Linked DNA regions of Homo sapiens. The protein of the gene in region 1 purifies or fractionates together with the protein of each later gene. This does not show direct contact. Each region holds a gene or a part of one and is shown in the gene's direction. Other genes may lie near its edges.

Region 1 (7,023 bases):
GTGGAGAAGGCAGTAACATAGCTCCTATCTGGCAGTGTGGTGGGACCAGCCCTCACCTTCCGCATCCGGCACAATGAGCAGAACCTGTCTTTGGCTGATGTGACCCAACAAGCAGGTAAATATCTCTGCGACCTCAATCCCAGGCTTGGCCCCAGCCCCACTCCTAAGAGGATATATCCAGGCCTGTTGCTGATGCCCCCTTGAAATGTTCCCAGCCCACATGGGCCCTGCCTGCTGCTTGGCAGAGCAAGACAGAGGATGGAGACCACATGGGGCTGGAGCAAGCCTGACCTTTGTCCTCCCTGCAGGGCTGGTGAAGTCTGAACTGGAAGCACAGACAGGGCTCCAAATCTTGCAGACAGGAGTGGGACAGGTATGCGCTAACTGGAGAATCAGTCCAAGTCCCCAGAGGGCTGATGTTGTCCGCAAGAGCTGGAGGCAAACCAGAGGGGAGAACTGGAGCCGAAACGTGTCCGTAGGCACGGCTGGCTGGAGGCGGCCTTCGCCCAAGCAGCCCCTCCCCGCAGTTCTCTTTCTCACCAGCAGATGGCGTAGGTGTCCCCTCCCTGCAGGACCAGCCCTCTGTAGTAAAAAGGCCTGAGAACTAGTTGAGCCGCCCTTAGTCTGCTGGAGCGCAGTCTCCAAATTCCAAGGGAACACCTTGCACAGAAAGGACATTATACTCAAAATATGTTTTGTTTGTTTGTCTGAGACAGAGTTTCACTCTTGCTGTCCAGGCTGGAGTGCAGTGGCTCGATCTCGGCTCACTGCAACCTCCACCTGCCAGGTTCAAGCGATTCTCCTGCCTCAGCCTCCCAAGTAGCTGGGATTACAGGTGCCTGCCACCACACCCGGCTAAATTTTTTTTTGTATTTTTAGTAGAGATGGGGTTTCACCATGTTGGCCAGGCTGGTCTCGAACTCCCGATCTCAGGTGATCCGCCAACCTTTGGCCCCCCAAAGTGCTGAGATTACAGGTGTGAGCCACCACGCCCGGCCTATACTCAAAATACCTTTGTCTTCTGCATCCAACACTGATGCCTCACGTTCTACAATTCAATTCCTAGGGTTCTCTGTCCGTTTTTAAATGCAAACACTCCTGGTGGGGGCCTCTGGCACTGCACTGTGGTTGAGTTGATCCGATGGGGATTGAGAAGGAGAATCTGAGCCCATCTGGCTGTACCACCATACCCCTAATCTCCCAGCTTTGCCCCAGGAGATGTCCTAACAGGGGGTGTGGCATGGGACCGGGGTGAGGAGCAGCTCTGAAACCTCCCTATGCCACTGCCTCCCTTGATTCTAGCCTTGTTCCCACAGAGGGAGGAGGCAGCTGCAGTCCTTCCCCAAACTGCGCACAGCACCTCACCCATGCGCTCAGTGCTGCTCACTCTGGTGGCCCTGGCAGGTGTGGCTGGGCTGCTGGTGGCTCTGGCTGTGGCTCTGTGTGTGCGGCAGCATGCGCGGCAGCAAGACAAGGAGCGCCTGGCAGCCCTGGGGCCTGAGGGGGCCCATGGTGACACTACCTTTGAGTACCAGGTGTGCAGCCCCAGAAGCTGATTGAGCAAAGGAAATGCAAGGGGCCTGGGAGTCTGGGTCTTGCGTGGACTAAGGGTCGGAACTGAATGGGGAGTGAGCCCTCATCCCTGGGAAGGTCCAGTGGAGGCTGGAGAAGCCCCAGTGGGAGGGAGTATGGTAGGGGCCTTTATGAACGCATGGGAATTGGGAGCATACAGTGCCTAAGGTTCTTCTTGGTGCTGTGCTTCTGGGGCTCTGGGATTCCACTCTGTCATGTCTGAGGTTGACATAAGCACCACCCAAGCAAAACAGCCCTGGAAAGGATCAGGGCCAGGCAGAAGACCATACCCCAGAGGAGCTGAGTTCCACTGAAAATCAGTCAAGGGCAAGCCTAGGAGCCCAGAGTTGAACCCAGGGCCCTGTTGAAAAGTTTCAGGGGACTCTTGGACCTCACCTGATTCTTCCTCCACAGGACCTGTGCCGCCAGCACATGGCCACGAAGTCCTTGTTCAACCGGGCAGAGGGTCCACCGGAGCCTTCACGGGTGAGCAGTGTGTCCTCCCAGTTCAGCGACGCAGCCCAGGCCAGCCCCAGCTCCCACAGCAGCACCCCGTCCTGGTGCGAGGAGCCGGCCCAAGCCAACATGGACATCTCCACGGGACACATGATTCTGGTCAGGACAGGGCCTGGGCCCAGAGTGGGTGAAGGAATGGGATGGTGAGAGAGGCCAGGCTGGCTGTGTGGGCCAGAGCCAGACCGTGGTGCCCCCACAGGCATACATGGAGGATCACCTGCGGAACCGGGACCGCCTTGCCAAGGAGTGGCAGGCCCTCTGTGCCTACCAAGCAGAGCCAAACACCTGTGCCACCGCGCAGGGGGAGGGCAACATCAAAAAGAACCGGCATCCTGACTTCCTGCCCTGTGAGTGAACCCTGCTGGCCCACCTGGCCCAGCCCTCTCTCTGCTGCGAGGTCTGGAGGGCTTGGGGTAAGGGGTTGGGCTTCTGGCTCAGGCTGAGTGGCAGAGGTCCCGCGATGCCAATGACCAGAGGGCCATCTGGGGTGGGGTGTCGGGTCTGTGCAGATGACCATGCCCGCATAAAACTGAAGGTGGAGAGCAGCCCTTCTCGGAGCGATTACATCAACGCCAGCCCCATTGTGAGTGGCCCTGACTCCAGCCCCCACCTCTGCCCCATCATTATCCTGGCCCTATGCACTCCATTTCCCCGTGGTCACCTGCCACCCCACCAACCCCCTGGAGTGGTGGGGCCTGATATCCTAGCAAGGGGGAACTGCCAGCCTTCTCAGACCCTGACCCACTTGCTCTGACCACGCCTGTCCATAGTGGCATTTCCCACACTGGCTCATGGTGTATCTTCCCTGCCTCCAGATTGAGCATGACCCTCGGATGCCAGCCTACATAGCCACGCAGGGCCCGCTGTCCCATACCATCGCAGACTTCTGGCAGGTGGGCTCTTAAAGGGAGGGCTTCGCTGGGGTCCTTGTGGCCACGAGGTCCCAGGGAGGTTAGAGTGGAGCTCAACTGGGTCTCTGTCCCTAGATGGTGTGGGAGAGCGGCTGCACCGTCATCGTCATGCTGACCCCGCTGGTGGAGGATGGTGTCAAGCAGTGTGACCGCTACTGGCCAGATGAGGGTGCCTCCCTCTACCACGTATATGAGGTCAGCAGGGCCCCACAGCAAGGGGACAATGGATGTGGGAAGAGTAGATGATGGCCTTTTCGTAACGTTTTCTTCACCAAATGAGCACTCAACAGTCTTTTTAAAAAGGCTTTTATTGGCCCTGCTCATGATTCATACATATATGAATATATATAAACACATATATGCATACCCATATATTCACATATATACATGTGTGTGTCCTGTTTACAGAACATACATGTGTGTGTGTGTGTGTGTGTGTGTGTGTCCTGTCTAGAGTCAAAAAGCGTTCATAGAGACTTATGATAAAGGCACAGAGATCAAACTATAAAACCACCAAAACCGAGGTAAGAAGCTAACAGCTAAGTGTATATTAGACAGGGAAGATAAGGATACCCAAAGACTGAGATTAAGACCTACGTTAATTGAACCTAATTTAGCTCTGAGTTTCCTGGTGGCCAAAGCAAAGAAAGACATACCACCCGTTACATACGTTACTAATGTAAAAGAGAAACAAACTTTTTCATTAGGAGAGAGACTAGGTGGAGGGGTGGAGAAGGAGGGGGAACTGGGCAGAGGCCAAGCAGGGGAAAGAGAAATATTTCAGACAAATGGGAGAACGTGAGTCCCCACTAAGACAAAAAAACCTTAAGAACACAGCAGAAGCTTCTCATCACCAGATGAGCCTGAATAGTAATTTTTTCCCCACCAAATAAGCACATGACGGTTTTTTTAAAAAGCCTTTCATTGGTCCTGCTGGTGGTTAACGAAAAAAATCCAGTAAGAATACTACAGAATTTCATCCAAGTTTATGGCACGTGTAGCACCGATACTCTGGTAGACCCTGCGAGGAAGAGGGAGGAGAAACTCCGACCTCGAGAGGCTCACAATAGCTGTGTCTGGGTGGAAAAGCTACTAGTGGTCCTGAGCAGTAGATAAGTGACAGGCAGCCAGGGTTCCTGGGACCGCTGGAACTTAGAATTTGAACCGGCCTGGGAGGCCGGGCGGTGGTTGGAGAGACCGAGAAGGTCGCGAGGAGAGCGCGCGCAACGCGGGGACTGGGGCAGCCCGCGGCGCTCAGGCCTGGGCCCCTGCCGGGCAGGTGAACCTGGTGTCGGAGCACATCTGGTGCGAGGACTTTCTGGTGCGGAGCTTCTACCTGAAGAACGTGCAGACCCAGGAGACGCGCACGCTCACGCAGTTCCACTTCCTCAGCTGGCCGGCAGAGGGCACACCGGCCTCCACGCGGCCCCTGCTGGACTTCCGCAGGTGAGCGCGGGCGCCCCCGCCTGGAGGGACCGCATGGGCGGGGGCGGAGCCGGGGTCCGCCCGCCGCTCGGCCTGGAGCCCCGGGTCGGGCCTGGAGCCTCGGCCTCTGACTTCTGGCCGCCCGCTCCAGACCCCACGCTCCCACCCCTAAAAGCAGGCCTGAGGCTCCGGCTGTGCCCTTCCCCGAGCCTCCACCACCCGCGTGGGCCAGCTCCGCGCCGGCCGCTGCTGCTCTGCTCCCTCCCTCTCACGCTCCCGGGACTGGCTCCTTCTCCTCCACCTGCTTCCTCCAGAGGGCCCTCTGCTTTCTGTCTCCCCTCCCTCTCCAGGACCCCTGCTTCCTTTCTCCTTCCAGTTCCCTCCTGCCCCGCTGTCTCCAGGCCCTGCACTGCGCTGCCTTGCTGCCCCCTCCGTCTCTCACTCCCGCCTGCCCGTCTCCCCTCCTTCATCCCTCTCCGTCCCTCCTTCATCCCTCTCCGTCTCTTCGCCTCTTTTTTCTGTGTCTTTCATTCTTTTTCCTTTCCTCTTTCTTCCTCTTCTCTCTCCCCATCTCTCTCTCACTCTGTCTCTGCCTCACCCTTTCCCTCTCTCTCCATTTCTCCCTCTCCGCGCTTCTCTTCCTTTCTCTCTGCCCTCTCCCCTGTTTTTCTCCACCTCCTTCCCCTGTCTGCCAGTTTCTCTCTGCTGCTCTGTCCGTCTCTCCCTCTCCCTCCCGCTGCCTGTCTTTCCTCTCTCTGTCCTTCCCTCTCCCTTCTTCCCTCTTTCTCTCTCTCCCTCACAGCTGCCAGTGTCATTTTTGTGATCTGCAGCTAGTATTCTCACTCCAGTTGCATAGTCACAAAAGTGATCATTGGCAGGTGTGGCTGCTGCATGGACAGACAGGACATGTGGCCCGGGGACCACCCCGAGCTGGGAGCAAGGGGTACAGGGAAGAGGCAAAGACTGTCGAAAGGAGTGTGGGAGGATCTCTGGATTCTGGGGGGCTCAGTGGAGCAGGTGGGGACTAGACAGGGGCTACCTGAGGGACTTACCCTTTTCCAACACTGACACCAAGACAGGTCAGCCCTCCAGCGTCCCCTGCTTTTCCTAGCCCCAGACAGGTACTTGGGAAGCCCACTACCAAGGGCAGGGGCCCACCCACACTGCGCCCTTCTCCTGGTTCTCTGTCCCTTGCCAAGCTGGCCTGATGTCTCTAGGTACTGGACAGAGGAGCAGAGCTGGGGGTGGGGACATGGGTATAGTTTCTGAACCTCAGGACAGCAGTTTCTAACTGGGGTCCCTGAGGCCTGAGACACAGGCGTCTTGAAAGCAGTGCCAGGGTATCAGAGCTATTTCCTTTTTTCCATATTTAAAAAATCCTGGTAGAACTAGTGCATGGATCTGTTTTAAAGCTGCACAGATAAGCTAAAAGATTGCTTTAGGCTGGAATTATGTAAACTCAGTTGGCATTAGACATCCAGAACAAATAAACTGTTGCTTAAGAAATGCAGTTCGGGGCCGGGCGCGGTGGTTCACACCTGTAATCCCAGCACTTTGGGAGGCCGAGGTGGGTGGATCACTTGAGATCAGGAGTTCAAGACCAGACTGGCCAACATGGTCAAACCCTGTTCTGCCAAAAATACAAAAATTAGCCAGGCAGGGTGGCGAGCGCCTGTACTCCCAGCTACTCGGGAGGCTGAGGCAGGAGAATCTCTTAAACCTGGGAGGCAGCAGTTGCAGTGAGACGAGACCGTGCCACTGTACTGCCACTTGGGCAACAGAGCCAGACTCCCTCTCAAAATAAATAAATAAATAAATAAATAAATAAATGCAGTTTGGTCAAGCCCCCCTAGAAGGAAAACAAATTAATAAAAGAGACCCTAAGAAAGTGACCCTGAGTAAGTTCCTTGGCTTCCCTCCATTCCGCTACCTGTGAGATGGGGATGATTACACATACTTTAGAGCAGAGGTTCCCAACCTTTTTGGCACAAGGGACCGGTTTTGTGGAAGACAATTTTTCCACGGCTGGGAGAGGGGGTGGTTTGAGGATGAAACTGTTCCCCCTCAGATCATCAGGCATTAGATTCTCATAAGGAGCTCACAACCTAGATCCCTCACATGTGCAGGTCACGATAGGGTTCGCACTTCTGTGAGAATCTATTGCAATGGCTGATCTAACAGGAGGCGGAGCTCAGGTGGTAATGTTCGCTTGCCTCCTGCTATGCGGCTCGGTTCCCAACAGGCCATAGACTGACACTGGTCCATGGCCCAGGGATTGGGGACCCCTGCTTTAGAGGGCTGTTGCAAGATTTGATAAAGTATGTAAAATCTAGTGTAAGTGCCTGATACATAGCAAGGGCTCCGTTAATTCTAGATGCTGCCTATTATCATTATTAAATGAGCAAAAACAACTATTGTGATTACTCTTCTACCCTAGCCCTCTGACGTAACAGCCAATGAGCTAGAAAACCATGTGGACTCCTATGAAGCCATTCTAAGTCACCTGGTCCTATAGCTGAAGGACTGTGAAGTTCCAAACTTCAATCTGACAACCCCTAAGAAGGTCTTCCCTGGTTCTGGCTTGCAGGGATATCAGGAG
Region 2 (8,005 bases), on another chromosome or scaffold:
TCACATCTGCAATCCCAGCACTTTGGGACGCTGAGGAGGGAGGATTGCTTGAGCTCAGGAATCTGAAACCAGCCTGGTCAACATAGTGAGACCTCGTCTCTTAAAAAAAAAAAATCCTGGCCAGGCGCAGTGGCTCATGATTGTAATCCTAGCACTTTGGGAGGCCAAGACGGGAGGACTGCTCGGGCCCAGGAGCGCAAGACAAGCCCTGGCAACACAATGAGACCCTGTCTCTACAAAAAAATTTTGAAATCTAGCCAGGTGTGGTGGTGCACACCTGTAGTCCCAGCTACTCAGTAGGCTGTGGAGGGAAGATTGTGTAAGCCTGGGAAGTTGAGGCAACAGTGCACATCGTTGCACCACTGCACTCCAGCCTCGGCAACAGAGCAAAATCCTGTCTCCAAAAAAAAAAAAAAATTCCAACACCTATATTTTACAGTAAGAAGAAAAGTAATATACTGCTCATGAGATGCTCCATTTTCCTAAACTTTGATATTCTTCTAGATTGGTAGATAAAACCAAGATAAAGCAAAAATATAGAATTAGAAAGTTGCAAAGGAAGCAAGAAAGGACCTAAGAACAATGAACTTTTCAAATATTTTGTAAAGTACTATATTTATTGTTTGCCTAAATTATTTACTTATTTCTAGTTTTCAACCCAAACTAGAAAACCTTCCCAGTAGCTCATGCCTGTAATCGCAGCCCTTTGGGAGGCTGAGGCAGGCGGATCACCTGAGTTTGGGAGTTGGAGACCAGCCTGACCCATGGAGAAACCCCGTCTCTATTAAAAATACAAAATTAGCCAGGTGTGATGGTGGGCACCTGTAATCCCAGCTACTTGGGAGGTTGAGGCAGGTGAATCCCTTGATCCTAGGAGGTGGAGGTTGCAGTGAGCTGATATTGCACCATTGCACTCCAGCCTGGGCAACGAGAGCAAAAGTCCGTCTCAAAAAAAAAAAAAAGAAAAAAGAAAAAAAGAAAACCTTCCCAAATCACTTTAATTCCCTGCATAACAGGCCACAAAAGTCAGCACTCCAAACTTAGACACAGCATATTCCTTACTATATTTACCTACTAATAAACAACTAATAAATGAGGAAAAGAAAGTAAATCAAACGCACATATAGGTTAGTATAAATTTGGTTCTGGGGTTTGGGGTCATACAAATCTTCTTAAATCCCATTTCAGCTCCAAGAACAACATAAAAGACAGTTTTTGTGGAACTCTCTAAACACGTAAGTCTTTCTAGACAGGGTTGGCTGGGTCCAGGGTATCTAGTGCCACCATGAACAGATAAAAATCCAAGCCCAGGGTGAACGTAACTCCAAATCACCAAAATAAGGCACCATCTGGAGTCATGCCAGATACTTAAAAGTCCCCACTTCAGGCTGGACAGACAACAATGAGCTTCTGCAGAAATAGAACCTATTTTTGAAGTATATATCAAGCTAAAATGACACAGTTATCAATGTGAAAGGGAAAAGCAAAGGGAAACAAAAATAGAAGTTCTAGTACAGTGCCAAGAACTAAAAAGTCTTTCCTAGAAATGAGTTCTATTGCTAAAGTGACACTCATCATTTATTATGCTATCTAGTGCTTTTATTTCCTGTCATTTGGGTACCTAAGCATTTAACAATGCAATACTAATTTTTTCTGGACTTTTATCCTTACATTGGTGATACATATCTCAAAGGCATAAATGAAAATTTAAAAAATATCACCATGTACAAGAACTTATTCCCTTACCTAAAAAAGAAGACTTTAAATTTTATCTTGTAATTTCACTTCTAAATAATGTCTATACAAGTTTAAGTAGCTAAGAAAGGGTTTAGATACCTCAGATATCCACTGTTAAAATCTACTTCCCTAGCTTCACAAATATAATTCAACAAATATAATTCCTTACTCTTACACTGAACAAGAGTAAGAAAATAGGATGTTTGTTTGTTTATTTTTTGAGACGGAGTCTCGCTCTGTCGCCCAGGCTGTAGTGCAGTGGCGCAATCTCGGCTCACTACAAGCTCCGCCTCCCGGGTTCACCCCATTCTCCTGCCTCAGCCTCTCCGAGTAGCTGGGACTACAGGCGCCCGTCACCACGCCCGGCTACTTTTTTGTATTTTTAGTAGAGACGGGGTTTCACCGTGGTCTCGACCTCCTGACCTCGTGATCCGCCCGCCTCGGCCTCCCAAAGTGCTGGGATTACAAGCGTGAGCCACCGCGCCCGGCTGTTTGTTTGAAAGGGGTGTGGGTAAATATCCTGGGCAGTCACCTAAGGAAATGCACCAAATGGAGTCTCATATTCTTGTGTGAAACATTCGGGAAATAATCTAATCTCTTCAAATTTAGCTCCTCTTTTCCATGGGCTTTATAAAAAAAAATTACATATATATATATGTTTAAATGTTTACTTTGGATGCTATGTGTGTGTTCCTAAGAGACATTTTCTTTTTTTTTTTTTCCTACTGGTACAATACACTAAGCTTACTTAGATTTCACCAGCTGTATATGTACTCATTCCATATGCTTTTGTGGTCTGAAGTCATCACTTGGAGGCACCAATGGAAAAGAGCAGTGTCAGAGGGCTGGGATTCCTCTACCAGCTGTGTGACCTTGAGTAAGCCACCTTAACCTATAAACAGAAAGTAATATCTGCCCTGATACATGATAGCCAATTATTTCACTTAGATAAAAACTGAATATCTACTATATATTTTTATGAGATATAAGGAAAGATTCTTCTTGCCGCTTTGCCATTTTTTCCCATAAGAAGCCTGGTGGTAAAGAGCACAGGCTTAGGATCAGGAGTCCTGCATTTCTTGAATTCTAGCTCTGTTGCTTGTTAGTAGTATGATCCTAGGCAAGTTACTTAATCTCCCTGCCTTCCATTTCCTTGTACACATGAGACAATTCCCCCCTCAGAGGATTGTTGTAAGGATGAGATGAAGTAATTCAATGAGCATTCATCCAACATATATTTATCTAGGAGCCATTCTGCTTACTGCTATACTGGTTAAAAATCCCCTTGTCCACTATATATGTGCCATACATTGCTAGCCCCCAGGAATTAAAAAAGACAATATAATAAAGCGACATTATGGCAAGAAAATACTAACTTTTCTACCTATGTGTCTTTTTGGAACCAATAATACAAATCTGACTTGTTTTTGTGAGCTGTTACAAATGAATCTGCAAGACTGAATCCAAGTACAAAATATCAGGTCTTGATTTAGAAGATATTTCTGAATAGCACGTTTCAAGGTTTTTGGTTTTTTTTTTTTTTTTGAGACAGAATCTCACTCTGTTGCCCAGGCTGGAGTGCAGTGGCGTGATCTCGGCTCACTGCAGCCTCCGCCTCCCGGGTTCAAGGGATTCTCCTGCCTCAGCCTCCCGAGTAGCTGGGACTATAGGCGCCCGCCACCACGCCCGGCTTTTTTTTTTTTTTTTTTTTTTTTTTTTTTTTTTTTGTATTTTTAGTAGAGACGGGGTTTCACCGTGTTAGCCAGGATGGTCTCGATCTCCTGACCTCGTGATCCGCCCGCCTTGGCCTCCCAAGGTGCTGGGATTACAGGCATGAACCATCGCACCCAGACCGCACGTTTCAAGTTTAGGTGTTCACCAGTGAACTGCGCCTGGCTGATACACACAAGGTCACAAATGACACAAAGATCAGAAGTGATGGCATATACCATACATGACTGTGTAACTAGTATAGGACCTAGCATAGGGTAAATGCTCATAAATATTAATTTAAAAAAATTAAGTTTGGTTTCCAACTTTGCCACTTCCACACAGAGTGACTCTGGGTTAACTTGTCTGGATCTTAATTTTCAGTAAACTAGCAATGTGTCTGCTTCGCCTATCTCATAGGATACTTGTGATCAAATGAAATTACATGACAATGTATCTGGCGCTAATAAAACGGTAATTTATGAGACACAGAATGACTACTGACGCCAGCTAGCCTACAAGCCTAATAGTAGAGATAAGATGTTAATACATAACCACCAAGAAATAAACATGGAGATCTAGTGAAAACCCATGACATGTTTTCTAAAAATGTCATCTTCCTTGTGACGAAAGGAGCTGGTCATTGCTAGGCAGGTGCTGTACCTTTTTCAACTCCCACGTTTCAGCAGCAGGCTCTGCTGAGTGACATTTTGCAAGGCTGAGGCCCCCGTAGGCGCAGGCGCCGTTGGGGTGCGCATCCGGGGACCTGCAGGTTACAAGCAGCAGATCCCACCTTCAGTCCTGGCTCTGACAAGCCCTCCAGGTAAGGCGCCTTTGCATTTAGCCGAGCTAGAGAAGAGAGCTGGAAGCCACCTCTACCTTTCACGGGGGGAAGGGACTGCCCGCGCGCTCGCCCCCATTATCTCAGCCCTCCGAAGCGCGCCACGGACTCCAGCCTTGTCTCTCACCCCCAGCCTCACCCCGCGTCCCTGACCCGCGAGTCTCCCGCCCAGCTCCGCGTCCCCGGTCCCTGCCTCCAGGCGCGTACACGGCGCGCTAAGAGGCGCGGGGAGCTCTTAGCGCACCTACTACTTAACCGGACCGGCTACTTACTGGCCGCCAGGTGGAAGCCTGCGATCGAGCTGGCCGGGCCTCCCAGCACCGCCGCTCTCCAGGCTCCCTTTCCAGGACTCAACTTTGGTCCCAGCCCCAATCGCAGCTCCGGTAACCTTTCCAGGAACCGAAATGCTAGATACAGCGGAAGGAGAAACGGAGGGAGGAAGACAAACCCGGAGCAGGGCGGCGCGGCAGTTTGGACACGCCCCGAGCTCTCCTGGGCTCTCAGTCCCCGTCAGGATGGGAGGCGCGTGCCGAGGGAGGAGGCTGAGGACACAGCCTCCTTTCGCCCTGCGCTGCCCGGCCTTCCGCGTGACCCCGCCTATGACCTCGGGGCGTTCCGCCTACGTCTGACCGTCAGGTGCGCACGCGCACTTACAGGCTTGTTTTGCCAGCTTCACGCCACCCGGGATGGGAGAAAGCAGGTGTCGCGAGAGTTGGGCGCAAGACGCCTTGTAGGGAGTGTAACTATGGCCGGCCTGCGGAACGAAAGTGAACAGGAGCCGCTCTTAGGCGACACACCTGGAAGCAGGTGAGCGGATCCTGGTGGAGGGACCCCTCAGTCTCCTGCGCTGTTGGGACTGGTTCCTTTCCGGGCGTCACCCGCACTGGGACAAACCCTCGCTGCCAGAGGGGTTCCAGCGCGGTGGGAGCCGGTGGCTGGGTTGTGTGAGCCGAGGAGATTCGCTCCCAACGTAGGAGAAAGGGCGTCTGGCCGCACCGTGCGGTGATGAGCCCGTGGGTTCGAGTGACGGGGCTGGAGAAACCCAGGCTGCTGCTTTGCCTGTTGCAGCACCCAAGCTGAGAGGTGACAGCGTGCTGGCAGTCCTCACAGCCCTTGCTCGCTCTCCAGGCCTCCTCTGCCTGGGCTCCCACTTTGGCGGCACTTGAGGAGCCCTTCAGCCCACCGCTGCACTGTGGGAGCCCCTTTCTGGGCTGGCCAAGGTGGGAGCCGGCTCCCTCAGCTTGCAGGGAGGTGTGGTGGGAGAGGCGTGAGCGGGAACCGGGGCTGCGCGCCGCGCTTGCGGGCCAGCTGGAGTTCCGAGTGGGCGTGGGCTTGGCGGGCCCCGCACTGGGAGCAGCAGGCCGGCCCTGCCGGCCCCGGGCAATGAGGGGCTTAGCACCCGGGCCAGCGGCTGCGGAGGGTGTGCTGGGTCCCCCAGCAGTGCCAGCCCACTGGCGCTGCGCTCGATTTCTCGCCGGGCCTTAGCTGCCTTCCCGCGGGGCAGGGCTCGGGACCTGCAGCCCGCCATGCCTGAGCCTCCCACCCACTCCGTGGGCTCCTGTGCGGCCCGAGCCTCCCCGATGAGCGCCGCTCCCTACTCCACGGTGCCTAGTCCCATCGACCACCCAAGGGCTGAGGAGTGCGGGTGCACGGCGCGGGACTGGCAGGCAGCTCCACCTGCAGCCCCGGTGCGGGATCCACTGGGCGAAGCCAGCTGGGCTCCTGAGTCTGGTGGAGACGTGGAGAACGTTTATGTCTAGCTCAGGGATTGTAACTACACCAATCGGCACTCTGTATCTAGCTCAAGGTTTGTAAACACACCAATCAGCACCCTGTGTCTAGCTCAGGGTTTGTGAATGCACCAGTCGACACTCTGTATCTAGCTACTCTGGTGGGGCCTTGGAGAACCTTTCTGTCAACACTCTGTATCTAGTTAATCTAGTGGGGACGTGGAGAACCTTTGTGTCTAGCTCAGGGATTGTAAACGCACCAATCAGCGCCCTGTCAAAACAGACTACTCGGCTCTACCAATCAGCAGGATGTGGGTGGGGCCAGATAAGAGAATAAAAGCAGGCTGCCCACCAGTAGTGGCAACCCGCTGAGGTCCCTTTCCACAGTGTGGAAGCTTTGTTTTTTCGCTCTTTGCGATAAATCTTGCTACTGCTCACTCTTTGGGACCATACGGCTTTTATGAGCCGTAACACTCACCGCGAAGGTCTGCAGTTTCACTCCTGAAGCCAGCGAGACCACGGGGAGGAACGAACAACTCCAGACGCGCCGCCTTAAGAGTTGTAACACTCACCACGAAGGTCTGCAGCTTCGCTCTTGAGCCAGCGAGACCACGAACCCACCAGAAGGAAGAAACTCTGAACACATCTGAGCATCAGAAGGAACAAACTCCAGACGTGCCACCTTAAGAGCTGTTAACACTCACCGCGAGGGTCCGCAGCTTCATTCTTGAAGTCAGTGAGACCAAGAACCCACCAATCCCGGACACAAAGCCACCACATTCTGTATCTTCTGCATTCCATATTTGGCCCTTTGTAGCTGATCACTTTCCAGATTTCACAGTTTCAAAATGATGGTTTTAATAGATACTTGAAGGTATCGGTCTTAGTAATGACCTGCTGCCTAATTGCCTGACAACCTCTTGATAGTTTAACAAATCTGTCCAAAATGAGCTCGCCTTTGTCCTATGCCAAATGTACAAAGAAAGACTAATTTTAAGGCATTAAAGGAATAACGTCAGTATTTTGATCCTTATAATTCTGGTTGTTCTGATCCTAGTTTATGGGCAGTGACTCGGGAATGTATACCTAATGTATTTTTACCTTTAGGAAAACGGAATTACTATTTTATTTGAAATATACATAATAATTACCTCAGGTAAATTAATAAATTCAGTTAAACTTCAGCTGTCTATGACCATAATAATTTTTACTCATTTGTTCCCCTTAAGCACCAACCTTTTGTGAGCACTCTAACTCAAAACCCTTTGGCAAATGTATTTCTCTGGTCCTCGATTTACTAAACAGAGTTTATGCAATGCAGTTTTATCTTTACTTGATTTTATCTTGAGATCATTAAAATGAGTTTAGATGCTGATATGAATTTTAGTAGAGTGATGTCCTGAGAGCCTATTGAGACATTTGGGACTGTTTGCTTCTATACCAATTTATTTTACACTGCTATACTTTTTTTTTGAGACGGGGTCTTGCTCTGTGGCCTAGTCTGGAGTGCAGTGGTGAGCCTGGAGTGCAGTTTTATCTTTACTTGATTTTATCTTGAGATCATTAAAATGAATATCGATGCTGATATGAATTTTAATAGAGTGATGTCCTCAGAGCCTATTGAGACATTTGGGACTGTTGCTTCTATACCAATTTATTCTACACTGCTATACTTTTTTTTGAGACGGGGTCTTGCTCTGTGGGCTAGTCTGGAGTGCAGTGGTGCGATTTTGGCTCACTGCCACCTCTGCCTCCCAGGTTCAAGCGATTCTCCTGCCTCAGCTTCTGGAGTAGCTGGGATTAACAGACGTGGGCCACCAGACACGGCTAATTTTTGTATTTTTGGTAAAGACAGGGTTTCACCAGGTGGCCAGGCTGATCTGGAACTCCTGACCTCAAGTGATCCACCCACCTCAGCCTCCCAAAGTGCTGGTGTAGAAGCAAACAGTCCCAAATGTCTCAATAGGCTCTGAGGCCCGTTGCTATA
Region 3 (6,253 bases), about 190 Mb from region 1:
ATGTGTATCTCTCCAGGGGAGTCACTACATGGTTACCGCATCTGTATCCAGGCCATCCTGCAAGACAAGCCCAAGATTGCCACGGCAAACCTAGGCAAGGTGAGCTCTCAGTGATGGTGGGGATGCTAGGAAGCTAGGACTGGGGAGGCTGGGCAGAATCTATGTTGTTGGACTCAGGTTTGGGATAGTGGAAGACCTGTAAGCCTAGTAATAATGGGTAACACTATTAGCACCTATCCTGTGTGTGTGCTCTGGAAACATAGGAGCAAGGTACTGCTATTATTTCCCATTTTTATAGATGAAAAGATTGAGCCACAGAGGAGTTCAGTAACTTTCCTAGGCTCAGTCATCCAGTAAATGGCAGAGTATGGGCGAAGCCCACAAACAGAACCTGCACCACGTGGCCATAGTGCTCCACTCTTGCTCGGCCTGTCCTCCCTCTTCCAGTTGACATCTCCCTTCCCTCCTGGCTTTGGGGGGTGCTCCTGGTGTTTTGTCCTATCCCAATCTGCCTTCCCCACCGGTCTCCTCAGTTCCTGGAACTGCTGAGGTCCCACCAGAGCCGACCAGCAAAGTGTCTCACCATCATGTGGGCCCTGGGTCAAGCAGGTTTTGCCAACCTCACCGAGGGACTGAAAGGTAACAGGGAAATAGGGAAGAAAGAGGGAGGGTCTCGGAGCTGGAAAACTCCTCTTTGATGCCCCCAGTAGGTGCAAGCCTGAGGCCTCCCTCGTGACTTTTACCCCTGCAGTGTGGCTGGGGATCATGCTGCCTGTGCTGGGCATCAAGTCTCTGTCTCCCTTTGCCATCACATACCTGGATCGGCTGCTCCTGTGAGTAATGGGAGGGCAGCAAGGGGAAGGCTCAGGGTGTCCCAAGTGGCTGTTATAGCAAAATGGGAGGCTATGATCTTGGTCTCCATGGATATGAGGAAAATCAGGACCAGCTTCTCCCACCACCTTAGAATGTGATGGTGAGGAAGGAAGAAGAGGGAGCTATTAAGGGCTGGCAGATGGGGTAGAGTTTATACCCTTTTTCCTAGATGTTGGCTTAGCTGGGGTCATGGCCAAAACAGCTGGCATGGGTGGTGGTGTCCAGCGAGCCTGTTTCTTCATCCCCACAGGATGCATCCCAACCTTACCAAGGGCTTCGGCATGATTGGCCCCAAGGACTTCTTCCCACTTCTGGACTTTGCCTATATGCCGAACAACTCCCTGACACCCAGGTAGGACTGCTCTGGGGCACACCTGCTGAGAAGGGACCACAGCACCAGAACCACACTACATATTCCCGTCTCTCCTTCCCCAGCCATCCTAGATCTGAGATTTGCAACCTGGAAGTTCAAGAGTAGGTTTCAAGGGAACAGTGACCCCTTGAAATTATATGGACCCTTGAGTGTGATTGGCATATGGGCATTTTCTTAGGGATAGGGTCCATGGCTTTCAACAGATTTCCAAGGAGTCTCTGAGTAAAAAGATTCAGAGCCATTGCAAGGTCCTCAGTGGCTATTCCCCACAGGCAGGCATGGGCTCTGAAGCAAGCAAAAGGTTCATATCATACAGCTCCACTTATAGCTTATGCCTGTCTTTCCTCCCCACCCCACCCAGCCTGCAGGAGCAGCTGTGTCAGCTCTACCCCCGACTGAAAGTGCTGGCATTTGGAGCAAAGCCGGATTCCACCCTGCATACCTACTTCCCTTCTTTCCTGTCCAGAGCCACCCCTAGCTGTCCCCCTGAGATGAAGAAAGAGGTGAGGATATGGTGGGAGGCTTTTTCTCCTTCCCCAGGGGTCAGCTGTAGCGGTCCCTATCTGCTGACAAAGGCCTTGCCTTCACAGAGCCCATTCTGAGGCTTTTCCTTAGCTCCCTGTTGACAGCTGCCTGCCCCGCTCACTCGAGCTTCACCCTCAGAAGATGGATCCCAAGAGACAGCACATTCAGGTCTGGGTGGTTTCTGATGCCCGTCTCTTGCAGATAGTGATCTTTGAGCTCAAAGCTCTAGCTCAGGAGCCCCAGCCTCCTGCTTTACAGCCTCTCAGAGAGCTTTCTGGAGTCTTGACACTGTTTCTCCACCCCTTAGGGTGGATGTGCGGCCTGGATGGCCTTGCTTACGGGAAGGGGATCACCTCTTAGCACTCCCCGCCTCTGCCAGCCCCATGCCCCCAGCAGCCTCTCCCTCTGTCGTGCTGTGCAGCTCCTGAGCAGCCTGACTGAGTGCCTGACGGTGGACCCCCTCAGTGCCAGCGTCTGGAGGCAGCTGTACCCTAAGCACCTGTCACAGTCCAGGCAGGTGGGGTGGGAGGCCAGCCTGTCCCTGTGCTAGAAGCAGAAGGGGAGCCTGGGTCACTGTCCCATGGCCTGACACCTTTCAGGCTGAGTGGGAACATTGCTGGAGCAGCCTCTAGGAAGCTGCTGCTCTGTGGGTGGTAGGTGGAGGGTCTTTCAGCCTGAAGGAGCCAGGGCTAATGGAGGACAGGAGGATGGGTGAGGCTGCGCGAGCCACCTGACTAGGGGGTTGTGCTTTCCCCACAGCCTTCTGCTGGAGCACTTGCTCAGCTCCTGGGAGCAGATTCCCAAGAAGGTGAGGAGCTGGGAGGACGTGGCAGGTTGAGCCCTGTCTGGATTCTAGGTTCTGAGTGGGGGCTCCTCAGCCACTGTCCCTTCCCTGAGAAGGGACCCTGTTGGCATGGAAAATGAAGCAGGATGGAAGCTCTGGATTCCCTCACAGGCCAGACCTTTCTTGTCCATAGGTACAGAAGTCTTTGCAAGAAACCATTCAGTCCCTCAAGCTTACCAACCAGGAGCTGCTGAGGAAGGGTAGCAGTAACAACCAGGATGTCGTCACCTGTGACATGGCCTGCAAGGTGCTGGCACCCGGTCCTCTCCAGCCCACACGCTATCTTACATCTCTGTCTCAGCACACCTGGGTTGGGCCTGTATCACATTCCTGCCCCACCTGTCTGGAGCCCCCCGCTGCCTCCAGGATAATGTGAAGGCTTGACGCTCTTTCGGGAAGGCCTGGCTTGAGGTCTGCCCTCAGAGGCAAAGACCAGCCCCTCGCTTCTGACAACTGTCTCCTGCTCCCCTCCCACCAGGGCCTGTTGCAGCAGGTTCAGGGTCCTCGGCTGCCCTGGACGCGGCTCCTCCTGTTGCTGCTGGTCTTCGCTGTAGGCTTCCTGTGCCATGACCTCCGGTCACACAGCTCCTTCCAGGGTAAGCAGCAATGGGCAAGCGAGGAGGATGGTGTGGGCGGGGCACAGAGCTACACGTAGCACCACCACCCCGCCCCCAGCAGCACACATCTTTGTCCTGACGAGTTCTCAATCCTGCAGAGTAAACACTTTACAGACAGATTTTTTTGTCCACAGATATGACACTACCATTTCAGATTGGACTAGGACTTCGCAGTATAGAAGTGCTTGCATATTCATAGTATCATTTTAGTAGGTGTTACCTCCTTTTAACTCCTGAGGAAATGGTCTCAGAAAGATGTAGCAATTAGCTTTAGGTCATAGCTAGTAAGTAGAAGGGCAGACCCTCAACCTGAGGCTTCCTGAAGCCTGAGCCTAGGCTCCAACCGGCAGCTGCATTCCTGCACACCTGGCCCAGCAGGAGAAGGGCAGCTCTGCATGCCTCCCTCCACAGCAGCCTGGAGCTGGCTTTGTGGCCCTGTGAGAACACAAAGCTCTGCCCAGCGCCTCGCTGTGCCTGCTCTGGGCCCTGTAGTGTCTGTCTCCCCAGTCCCTGCCCCTCTCACCTCCCAGCTCACCAGAGGCCCCCTTTACTTAGCCTCCCTTACTGGCCGGTTGCTTCGATCATCTGGCTTCTTACCTGCTAGCCAACAAGCGTGTGCCAAGCTCTACTCCTACAGTCTGCAAGGCTACAGGTGAGCTCCTCCCAGGGAGGGGAGAGGAGAGGCAGAAGAGAGAAGGCCTGGGTGTCAGGGAGGAGGCGACAGTCAGTGGGAAGCGCTTGTGATTCTCCTTTCCCACGGCCTCCCTTTCCCCAGCTGTTTCTTGGGAGCTAAGTGGGCCTGAGGAGACTCAGAGCCCTCTTCCCCCACTTCCATCTTCCACAGCTGGCTGGGGGAGACACTGCCGCTCTGGGGCTCCCACCTGCTCACCGTGGTGCGGCCCAGCTTGCAGCTGGCCTGGGCTCACACCAATGCCACAGTCAGCTTCCTTTCTGCCCACTGTGCCTCTCACCTTGCGTGGTTTGGTGACAGTCTCACCAGTCTCTCTCAGAGGGTAAGTCAGAGACAGGGAGTCAAATAAGGGGCTGGTTTTCCCAGGAGCAGAATTCTGGGAAAGGAGCAGCACTGTGTGGCCTGAGTCTTTAGGGCCAGGATGCAGTTCCCTGGATACTCTGACCCCATCCATTCTCCATGGTCCAGCTACAGATCCAGCTCCCCGATTCCGTGAATCAGCTACTCCGCTATCTGAGAGAGCTGCCCCTGCTTTTCCACCAGAATGTGCTGCTGCCACTGTGGCACCTCTTGCTTGAGGCCCTGGCCTGGGCCCAGGAGCACTGCCATGAGGCATGCAGGTGAGACCTTTGCCCAGGGCTCCGGCAGGATCCCCAGCAGCCCCATTCCCGGGCCCCAGGGACAAGCCATCTCTATCCAGTCTCCCACACTGTCCTGCCCCTCGCTCCCATTCCTGGCCACCCTGGGATGAGGGTTGTGGGTCTAAGCTTTCATCCCCGAAAGTTGACACAGCTACTCACGTGCATACTCAAAAATGTTCCACTTTCCTTCCAGAGGTGAGGTGACCTGGGACTGCATGAAGACACAGCTCAGTGAGGCTGTCCACTGGACCTGGCTTTGCCTACAGGACATTACAGTGGCTTTCTTGGACTGGGCACTTGCCCTGATATCCCAGCAGTAGGCCCTGCCTTCCTGGCCACTGATTTCTGCATGGGTAGACCATCCAAGACTGCAGCGGGTAGAAGGTGGCAGTTCTTCATGGGAGTCTTTTTAACTTGGTGCCTGAGTTCTCTCCTAGGCAAGTGGCCAGTTGCCTCCACCTCAGTTCTTCCATCTTTGGTGGGGACAGGGCCCAGCAGCATCTCAGCCTCCTACCCACAATTCCACTGAACACTTTTCTGGCCCTACTGCACATGGCCCCCAGCCTCCATCCTTGTGCTGGTAGCCTCTCACAACTCCGCCCTTGCCCTCTGCCTTCCACTTCCTTCCATCTCATTTCTAAACCCCAAACAGCTCATCTCTAAAAAGATAGAACTCCCAGCAGGTGGCTTCTGTGTTCTTCTGACAAATGATTCCTGCTTCTCCAGACTTTAGCAGCCTCCTGTTCCCATTCTTGGTCACAGCTCTAGCCACAGCAGAAGGAAAGGGGCTTCCAGAAGAATATAGCACCGCATTGGGAAACAGCAGCCTCACCTCCACCTGAAGCCTGGGTGTGGCTGTCAGTGGACATGGGGAGCTGGATGGAAATGCCTCTCACTTCAAAATGCCCAGCCTGCCCCAAATGCCTCTAAGCCCCTCCCTGTCCCCTCCCTTGTAGTCCTACTTCTTCCAACTTTCCATTCCCCATCATGCTGGGGGTCTTGGTCACAAGGCTCAGCTTCTCTCCACTGTCCATCCCTCCTATCATCTGTAGAGCAGAGCACAGGCAGTTGTGTGCCTTGGGCCCAGGGAACCCTCCATCAACCTGAGACAGGACTCAGTATATGGTTCTTGGGTATGCCCTACCAGGTGGAATAAAGGACACAGATTTGATTTCTAGCATTCTTGTCTGCATCCTCATATAGAAATTCCCCTAGTTATGGTTCAGAATAACAAAATCCTGGGCCCTTGCCCTCCTGAAGACTGTAGCCGTGGCTGTAATTAAGCTCCTGGTGGGGGAAGCCCACACACATGGTTCTAAAGTTTGACCTGGTGGGTGTTCTAGACACTTCTCTTGCTACCCTAATTATAGTGTCTGACTTGTCACTGTGATTCACGTCCCAGATTTGCCTTGATAGTTTTACGCTTAGAAAAGCAGGGGGCCGTCTCCTAGGGGAATTCTTGGCCAGTGACCAGGAGGTGTCCTTTCCTTGCCAGGACCTTCATTTTATAGAGCAGTGAGTGAAAGATTTAGAACTCCAAGGGACACATGAGTCCAAGGTTTATCACCGAAGCCCCTTTTTATTTTTGACTTGAGACTATAAGGAGTTAGATAACTCTGCTGGTTTCTTAGTTCTCAATTTTGTTTCCTTAAATGTTTCAAGTCAGCAGTACTAGAGATACGCTCTAGC

What was found.
Region 2: the proteins of PTPRN (region 1) and MFSD8 purify together in Homo sapiens (affinity purification with mass spectrometry; 2 studies listed by BioGRID and IntAct, with this or other methods). This does not show direct contact.
Region 3: the proteins of PTPRN (region 1) and TMEM214 purify together in Homo sapiens (affinity purification with mass spectrometry; 3 studies listed by BioGRID and IntAct, with this or other methods). This does not show direct contact.

What each region holds. Positions count from the first base shown.
Region 1 is NC_000002.12:219,292,397-219,299,419, reverse strand, and holds part of PTPRN (receptor-type tyrosine-protein phosphatase-like N isoform 1 precursor), read left to right. Parts: intron 1-35; coding exon 36-115; intron 116-308; coding exon 309-373; intron 374-1,316; coding exon 1,317-1,535; intron 1,536-1,986; coding exon 1,987-2,187; intron 2,188-2,287; coding exon 2,288-2,435; intron 2,436-2,597; coding exon 2,598-2,671; intron 2,672-2,903; coding exon 2,904-2,981; intron 2,982-3,074; coding exon 3,075-3,194; intron 3,195-4,278; coding exon 4,279-4,445; intron 4,446-5,219; exon of another isoform or gene 5,220-5,309; intron 5,310-7,023. UniProt on the Homo sapiens protein: Plays a role in vesicle-mediated secretory processes. Required for normal accumulation of secretory vesicles in hippocampus, pituitary and pancreatic islets.
Region 2 is NC_000004.12:127,962,162-127,970,166, reverse strand, and holds the start of MFSD8 (major facilitator superfamily domain-containing protein 8), read left to right. Parts: upstream 1-4,993; 5' UTR 4,994-5,033; coding exon 5,034-5,095; intron 5,096-8,005. UniProt on the Homo sapiens protein: Outward-rectifying chloride channel involved in endolysosomal chloride homeostasis, membrane fusion and function. Conducts chloride currents up to hundreds of picoamperes.
Region 3 is NC_000002.12:27,035,954-27,042,206, forward strand, and holds the end of TMEM214 (transmembrane protein 214), read left to right. Parts: intron 1-16; coding exon 17-99; intron 100-533; coding exon 534-639; intron 640-751; coding exon 752-833; intron 834-1,123; coding exon 1,124-1,225; intron 1,226-1,607; coding exon 1,608-1,749; intron 1,750-1,836; coding exon of another isoform or gene 1,837-1,848; exon of another isoform or gene 1,849-1,861; coding exon of another isoform or gene 1,862-1,939; intron 1,940-2,078; coding exon of another isoform or gene 2,079-2,192; coding exon 2,193-2,284; intron 2,285-2,530; coding exon 2,531-2,579; intron 2,580-2,748; coding exon 2,749-2,862; intron 2,863-3,093; coding exon 3,094-3,211; intron 3,212-3,787; coding exon 3,788-3,884; intron 3,885-4,076; coding exon 4,077-4,245; intron 4,246-4,391; coding exon 4,392-4,543; intron 4,544-4,757; coding exon 4,758-4,884; 3' UTR 4,885-5,741; downstream 5,742-6,253. UniProt on the Homo sapiens protein: Critical mediator, in cooperation with CASP4, of endoplasmic reticulum-stress induced apoptosis. Required or the activation of CASP4 following endoplasmic reticulum stress.